Linked DNA regions of Homo sapiens. The protein of the gene in region 2 interacts with the protein of the main gene of each other region in a pairwise test. Each region holds a gene or a part of one and is shown on either strand. Other genes may lie near its edges. The genes, in order: SFRP1 and NHSL3.

The links.
Region 1: the proteins of NHSL3 (region 2) and SFRP1 interact in a two-hybrid assay, tested with the Homo sapiens proteins (one large-scale study listed by BioGRID and IntAct).

The regions. Positions count from the first base shown.
Region 1 is NC_000008.11:41,306,654-41,311,180, reverse strand, and holds the start of SFRP1 (secreted frizzled-related protein 1 precursor), read left to right. Parts: upstream 1-1,707; 5' UTR 1,708-2,021; coding exon 2,022-2,565; intron 2,566-4,527. UniProt on the Homo sapiens protein: Soluble frizzled-related proteins (sFRPS) function as modulators of Wnt signaling through direct interaction with Wnts. They have a role in regulating cell growth and differentiation in specific cell types. SFRP1 decreases intracellular beta-catenin levels.
Region 2 is NC_000001.11:32,769,031-32,772,829, forward strand, and holds part of NHSL3 (NHS-like protein 3), read left to right. Parts: intron 1-642; coding exon 643-756; intron 757-849; coding exon 850-3,411; intron 3,412-3,799. UniProt on the Homo sapiens protein: Able to directly activate the TNF-NFkappaB signaling pathway.

The DNA.
Region 1 (4,527 bases), on a different chromosome or scaffold from region 2:
CCATCTGCAGAAGCCTCCTGTGTGCACCGTGGAATCACCGTGTCTGTACGGGCACGAATGCTTTAAGAAAACAGCCCTGCTTCTTCACAAACTCTAGTCATTTCACTTGGAATCTGTCCATCAAGAAATTAGGTTTGCAGAGTCCAAAGCAAGCTCCCTAGAGCTTTACAAACAAGCTGGCGGGCAAGGCAGCGCGCCCTATAGTGTCTCTGTGGAGCGCTAAGATCTGTGACCCCTTTGCCACATGGGGTGTGCGCTCAGACTGGGCTATGAATATATCAGCCTCTCTCCACCCGCACTTAGGGACAGAAGATATGGAGACTCCAGGAACTTCATGAACTATTTGCTGTGGTCTTCTGTCCCGGGATAGTCCGGGTCTCACTCCCAGCTCTCCAGAGCTTAACCCTCCCTCTCAGGGGAATGTTTGAAACCTACGAAGAATTCTCAGGAATTCGAGGTAGAAGGTGGCAGAGAGACTTCTGTTCCTGGGGGCCGAGCTGTTGTGCTGATACCGTCCTCTTGGCGTCTGCCCTAGTGGGGACCCTTGATTTTAACTTGAAGTTCCTGGACTGGGTCTAACCTTAGCATGTGTGCCTGAGTGATGGACTTGGTATTTACACCAGCCACGCTGATAAGTGCACATGTGTTTTTAATGTTTTGGCTTTCCACACCACAAACACACAGATGTGCTGTCGCCCGGGCTAGGACTTGAGTAGGGTTTTTCTATTTAAATATATATTATATATTTAAAAAAGTGTCCTCCCAGAGCTAATACCGTTGCTAGCAGCTCTTCCTGCCGCCACACCGGGCAAAGTCCACCCACTGCCCCAGTGTTGAGGGCCACCATGGGCGGCCCCACCTGGAGAGGTGCTGCTCACAGCAAACAGCTCCAACTGCGCCTTCGCCTCGCCTTCCAGGGAGCCCAGCCAGGCCCACTGGGTATTTACAAGCAGACCTCCCTCGCTTCAGCCTTCCTGAACCCCTGTTAGTTGGGAAACCACCTGTCTGCACCGCAGCTAGAGAACCGAGGAGAGGAGCCGCTAGTCTAAAGGGCTGTTGGTTGAAATTAGGAAGCAGTGTAAAGAAAAAGAAAAAAAAAGTTTGGGAGGCCAAGGCAGGAGCATCACCTGAGGTCAGGAGTTCGAGACCAGCCTGGCTAACATGGTGAAACCCCGTCTCTACTAAAAATACAAAAAATTAGCGGGGGCATGGTGGCACGCGGCTGTAATCCCAGCTACTCGGGAGGCTGAGGCAGGAGAATCGCTTGAACCCGGGAGGCGGAGGTTGCAGTCAGCGGAGATAGCGCCATTGCACTCCAGCTTAGGCAACAAGAGCGAAACTGTCTCAAAAAAAAAAAGTCTTCATAATTTCATGGGTTTGCAAGTATGATCCAGGCTCCCCGCTTCTCTGCAAGCCAATGCGAGTTAATTACAGCGTCCGCCCTGGTCTCTCTCCACCCCACGCCGTGATCCATTCCCCTTCTTTTTCTCCCCTTGTCTCTTTCCTCCTCCCCCTTTTATTTATGTATTTTTGGTTTTGTTTTTTAAGGGGTGTTGAGCCGCGTCTGGTTCTAGTAAACCGAACCCGCTCGCGAGGGAGGCGATTGGCTCCCGCGCCGGTGACGGACGTGGTAACGAGTGCGGCTCGCCCCGCCGGGAGCTGATTGGCTGCGCGGGGCGGCTCCGAGGGCTCGGCCGTAGGAGCCCCGCGCACTCCAGCCCTGCAGCCTCCGGAGTCAGTGCCGCGCGCCCGCCGCCCCGCGCCTTCCTGCTCGCCGCACCTCCGGGAGCCGGGGCGCACCCAGCCCGCAGCGCCGCCTCCCCGCCCGCGCCGCCTCCGACCGCAGGCCGAGGGCCGCCACTGGCCGGGGGGACCGGGCAGCAGCTTGCGGCCGCGGAGCCGGGCAACGCTGGGGACTGCGCCTTTTGTCCCCGGAGGTCCCTGGAAGTTTGCGGCAGGACGCGCGCGGGGAGGCGGCGGAGGCAGCCCCGACGTCGCGGAGAACAGGGCGCAGAGCCGGCATGGGCATCGGGCGCAGCGAGGGGGGCCGCCGCGGGGCAGCCCTGGGCGTGCTGCTGGCGCTGGGCGCGGCGCTTCTGGCCGTGGGCTCGGCCAGCGAGTACGACTACGTGAGCTTCCAGTCGGACATCGGCCCGTACCAGAGCGGGCGCTTCTACACCAAGCCACCTCAGTGCGTGGACATCCCCGCGGACCTGCGGCTGTGCCACAACGTGGGCTACAAGAAGATGGTGCTGCCCAACCTGCTGGAGCACGAGACCATGGCGGAGGTGAAGCAGCAGGCCAGCAGCTGGGTGCCCCTGCTCAACAAGAACTGCCACGCCGGCACCCAGGTCTTCCTCTGCTCGCTCTTCGCGCCCGTCTGCCTGGACCGGCCCATCTACCCGTGTCGCTGGCTCTGCGAGGCCGTGCGCGACTCGTGCGAGCCGGTCATGCAGTTCTTCGGCTTCTACTGGCCCGAGATGCTTAAGTGTGACAAGTTCCCCGAGGGGGACGTCTGCATCGCCATGACGCCGCCCAATGCCACCGAAGCCTCCAAGCCCCAAGGTAAGGCTGCCTCCTCCCACGTGCGCGAGCCGCCCCCTCCATCCCCCGGCCGGAGCTGCAGGAGAACCCGCGCCACCCTACGCCCGCCCGCCGCTGGGTCCCGGTGCTGGGGACTGAGGGCCCGAGGTTGCTCGCATGCTGTGCACGTGATTCCTAAGCGCGTCTGGTCTGTCCCAGGTATCGCTCAGCGCCCCTCGCGACCCAGGTGCACGGCGGGGCTGGCCCGGGAGCGGCAGCTCTGCGCCTTGGCCTCGCAGGGACTCGCTGTGGTCCCCGGAGCCGCTCTTCCTGGGATCCAACTTCGCCTTTCCCATACCTGAAACAAAGCCTTGCGCTTTAAATAACAGGGGAGCTTCCCTCTCCTCTAGGAGGACTCCGAGTCCCTATCGAAGTTTTTAACCTCTGAGACGGGAGGAAAAAACAAAAACCCAAAGCGTAGAAAGTTCAGAAAGGCCGAGAGAATGCTTGGAGCAGCTTTTGTTTATTTTCATAGGTTCGACAAAGATTTAAAAAATAAAACCAAGCCCTTTCCTTCACTGGTCATTCAGTCAAGTAGCCTTGGGATTGCTGCAAAACTGGCTGAGAAAGTTTAGGAACCGTGGGGACTTCTGTTTCTCCACCCCTTCCAGGTACCAGCTCTGCCCTCGGAGGGCTGGGGGTGGAAAGTCTTTTCTCCCTCCCTCTAGCGTACCCCCTGCTTTTCTCATTTACACAAATCCTCAGCTCATTAGAAAGATAAAAATGTAATTAGCTCATTGTTCATCTCCTCCCGGGGAGAGCAGCTCTGCAAAATGCAGACTTTCCTAACAGCCTGAGGGACCGGCCCGAGGTTCCTCTCAAAACCCCCTTATGTTTAAAGAGCAATTCTTGAGGGGGAAGAAAAAAAAATCCTGGGAAGTCAAATAAAATGAAATAGATATAAAGATAAAATATACACATCACAGACCTGACTTCTATAGAAGTAAATTCAACCCAGAATTCTTTAGAAGCGAAGTTTAGGCTCTGAGGTGTGGAGAGGGTCAGGGATTGGGGAGCTGTACCCCAGCTGCGCTTAGCACAGACGCAGGCTTCCTGAGGGCTTTTTGAGGAGGGCCTTTAGGGTGGGGGAGAAAGACTGCCTACACTTAGCTCACCTTAAAGTGTCTTTAACCTCTGTTATTGATGCTAAAAGAGGGGAGTGCAGTCACCTGGCTCCTCAGAGTGAGGATTTGGGCAGGTGGGGGAAAGGGATACCCCAAATTTTAGATGCTTTTGCTTATTCTAGGGAGGGTGGAGATGGGTCCACAGTGACTGTCGTTGGATGGCTGGATGGGAACGGCACTGATTGCCCGCAGTGGCCAGGTCTGGGCACCGCTGCTCTCAGAGTCAACTCTGGTGTTGGGAGTGGAGTGAGGGTAGCGGATGCATCTGCACTTTGTGAGCGAGAACTGAGCAGTTACCTGGAGCAAACAAAGCGCCTTGTGTTCTGTTGGCTTGCACCCATCCCCTGCAGCCTGCGGGAATTTCCTTCTCCCCTTCCTCAGCCAGCGGGGATTAGCCCAGCCCTGCCCTGTGAGGCTGTGCCCAGCCCTGACCTGGAGTCCATTCCCAATGGCTTCCGATGGTCTCTTTCTGGGACCGTCTGCAGACATGAGTGGACACCTTAGGGGGCTCGGCTGCGGAAAAGGTGCTGCAGTCCACAGGGAACATGGGGGGATTGGACGGGTTGCCTGAAGAAGAGAGGAAAGAATCCCTCACCCCAGCCCCCAAAAGGCTGTGATGGGATGGGGAAACCCCATAATCGCTGTCTTCCGGACACCTTTTGCCCCTTGGCTGCAGTTCCACTGGTCGGCGCCCTTCTCAGCCTGGCTTGGAACCGTCCTCACTCACCTCCACTCCTCCCAGCAGCGCTCAGGTAGTCACCCTCCCAAGACAGGTCTTTGAGGAGCAAAGAGAAAAGTGGGGAGAGGGCCGGTCGGGAGT
Region 2 (3,799 bases):
ACGAGGTCAGGAGATCGAGACCATCCTGGCTAACACGGTGAATGAAACCCCGTCTCTACTAAAAATACAAAAAATTAGCCTTGCCTGATGGCGGGTGCCTGTAGTCCCAGCTACTTGGGAGGCTGAGGCAGGAGAATGGCGTGAACCCAGGAGGTGGAGCTTGCAGTGAGCCGAGATTGCACCACTGCACTCCAGCCTGGTCGACAGTGTGAGACTCCATCTCAAAAAAAAAATAAAAAAAGAGTTAGAAAATCTTAACTGTTGGAAGCCTGGTGTAACTAACTAGTGCCAGCTGTGTGACCTTGGGAAAACCCTTAACCTCTCTGAACTTCTGTTTGATGTTCTATAAAAATGAGGATAAGTACCCTATTGGAATGAATGCCAAATGTTTAGAATGACGACTAACACGTAATAATATGTTTACTAAATAGTAAGCTATCACTAAAGGGAAATTACCATCATTGACTTAGTAGCCTTAGTCTTACAGAAAGAAGCCTCTAGCTTTGTTTAACCTAGCCTTGCCCATACCTACTTGACTGTGGAAACCATTTCTCGCAGAGCTCTTATTACAAAAGTAGTGCCCTGCAGAATGTGCCTGGAGTCCTTTGCTCTAACAGTTTTTCTCCCACGACTGGCCCCCAGGCTCCACCTTCCGACCCCATGACTCATTTCCCAAATCTGGAAAGTCAGGGCGGCGTCGGCGGGAGCGGCGGAGCACTGTGCTGGGACTCCCGCAGCATGTGCAGAAGGAGCTTGGTGAGGCCTGGGTTAGGAGGGCAGTGGTGGGGTGGGTGGGGAGCCTTGGTCATCCCCTCTCTGCTGACCCCACCTCCTCCCTGTCCCTTCCAGGCCTGAGGAATGAGCGTGAGGCACCAGGCACGCCCCGGGCTCCTGGTGCACGGGATGCCGTACGCATCCCCACAGTGGACGGCCGCCCCCGAGGCACCTCAGGGATGGGGGCCCGGGTGTCCCTGCAGGCGCTGGAGGCGGAGGCGGAGGCTGGCGCTGAGACAGAGGCCATGCTGCAGCGCCACATTGACCGTGTCTACCGGGATGACACCTTTGTTGGCCGGTCCACGGGTACCCGGGCCCCACCATTGACCCGGCCCATGTCCCTAGCAGTGCCTGGATTGACAGGAGGGGCAGGGCCTGCAGAGCCCCTGAGCCCGGCCATGTCCATCTCCCCCCAGGCCACCTACCTGTCGAAGTTGATTCCACATGCTGTGCTGCCGCCTACAGTGGACGTGGTGGCCCTAGGCCGCTGCAGCCTGCGCACACTAAGCCGCTGCAGCCTGCACTCGGCCAGCCCAGCCTCAGTCCGCTCGCTGGGGCGCTTCTCCTCCGTCTCCAGCCCACAGCCCCGCAGCCGCCACCCATCCTCCTCCAGTGACACCTGGAGCCACTCTCAATCCTCCGACACCATTGTGTCTGACGGTTCCACCCTCTCCTCTAAGGGTGGCTCTGAGGGCCAGCCGGAGAGCTCTACGGCTAGCAATAGCGTGGTACCCCCTCCCCAGGGAGGCAGTGGGAGGGGCTCTCCCAGTGGGGGCAGCACTGCTGAGGCCTCAGACACACTCAGCATTCGGAGCAGTGGGCAGTTGTCTGGCCGGAGTGTGTCCCTGCGTAAGCTGAAGCGGCCTCCACCCCCTCCCCGCCGGACCCACTCCCTCCATCAGCGGGGCTTAGCAGTGCCTGATGGGCCATTAGGGTTGCCCCCTAAGCCTGAGCGTAAGCAGCAGCCCCAGCTGCCTCGGCCACCCACCACTGGTGGCTCAGAAGGGGCGGGGGCAGCACCCTGTCCACCCAACCCAGCCAACAGCTGGGTACCTGGCTTGTCTCCGGGTGGTTCCCGGCGCCCCCCACGGTCCCCAGAACGGACACTTTCGCCCTCCAGTGGATACTCGAGCCAAAGTGGTACTCCCACCCTCCCTCCCAAGGGCCTGGCAGGTCCCCCTGCTTCCCCAGGCAAGGCCCAGCCCCCTAAACCAGAGCGTGTCACGTCTCTTCGCTCCCCTGGGGCCTCCGTCTCCTCTTCCCTCACGTCTTTATGTTCCTCCTCCTCTGACCCAGCCCCCTCAGACCGCTCTGGGCCACAGATATTGACCCCCCTGGGTGACAGGTTTGTCATACCTCCTCACCCCAAGGTGCCTGCCCCCTTCTCCCCACCTCCCTCCAAGCCCAGGAGCCCTAACCCAGCTGCCCCTGCTCTAGCCGCCCCTGCTGTGGTTCCTGGGCCTGTTTCTACCACTGACGCCAGTCCTCAGTCCCCTCCCACTCCCCAGACAACCTTGACTCCACTGCAGGAGTCTCCTGTCATCTCCAAAGACCAGTCACCCCCACCTTCCCCACCCCCATCTTATCATCCACCCCCACCACCCACTAAGAAGCCAGAGGTGGTTGTGGAGGCACCATCTGCCTCAGAGACTGCTGAGGAGCCCCTCCAAGATCCCAACTGGCCCCCTCCCCCACCCCCTGCCCCTGAGGAGCAGGACCTGTCCATGGCTGACTTCCCCCCACCAGAGGAGGCTTTTTTCTCTGTGGCCAGCCCTGAGCCTGCAGGCCCTTCAGGCTCCCCAGAGCTTGTCAGCTCCCCGGCTGCTTCGTCCTCCTCAGCTACTGCTTTGCAGATTCAGCCCCCGGGTAGCCCAGACCCTCCTCCAGCTCCGCCAGCCCCAGCTCCTGCTAGTTCCGCCCCAGGGCATGTGGCCAAGCTCCCTCAGAAGGAACCGGTGGGCTGTAGCAAGGGTGGTGGGCCTCCCAGGGAGGACGTAGGTGCGCCCCTGGTCACGCCCTCGCTCCTGCAGATGGTGCGGCTGCGCTCCGTGGGTGCTCCAGGAGGGGCTCCCACCCCAGCACTGGGGCCATCGGCCCCCCAGAAACCACTGCGAAGGGCCCTGTCAGGGCGGGCCAGCCCAGTGCCTGCCCCCTCCTCAGGGCTCCATGCTGCGGTCCGACTCAAGGCCTGCAGCCTGGCCGCCAGTGAAGGCCTCTCAAGTGCTCAGCCCAACGGACCGCCTGAGGCAGAGCCACGGCCTCCCCAGTCCCCTGCCTCAACGGCCAGTTTCATCTTCTCCAAGGGCTCTAGGAAGCTGCAGCTGGAGCGGCCCGTGTCCCCTGAGACCCAGGCTGACCTCCAGCGGAATCTGGTGGCAGAACTCCGGAGCATCTCAGAGCAGCGGCCACCCCAGGCCCCAAAGAAGTCACCTAAGGCTCCCCCACCTGTGGCCCGCAAGCCGTCTGTGGGAGTCCCCCCACCCGCCTCCCCCAGTTACCCTCGAGCTGAGCCCCTTACTGCTCCTCCCACCAATGGGCTCCCTCACACCCAGGACAGGACTAAGAGGGAGCTGGCGGAGAATGGAGGTGTCCTGCAGCTGGTGGGCCCAGAGGAGAAGATGGGCCTCCCGGGCTCAGGTACAGTGGGCAGTGCTAGGGTGAGGTCCCATTGCTGATGATGGGAAGTAGGAATCTGAAGTCCCGCCATGGGGGATTTGTTCTTGGATCTTTAACTTTTCTGGTCTGAGAATGCCTGGGAAGGGCAAGCTGTCACCCTTGCTGGGGCCCAGAGGAGAATGGTGTGTGAGTGTCAGGCCTACTGTGTTTGAATTCCAACTTTGCCTCTTTCCCTACCCTTCCTAGCTACATTGTAAAGTGTGGGGCAGTGACACCTACATTATAGTGTCTGAACATGTGTAGGGTGTCCAGCCCAGTGCTGCGGGCACTGTCAGTAAATCAAAGCGGTAAGAAGGTTGGGTGAGGGTATGCTTTGTTGGGCTCCTAGTGCCAGAACCAAGCCAGGAGG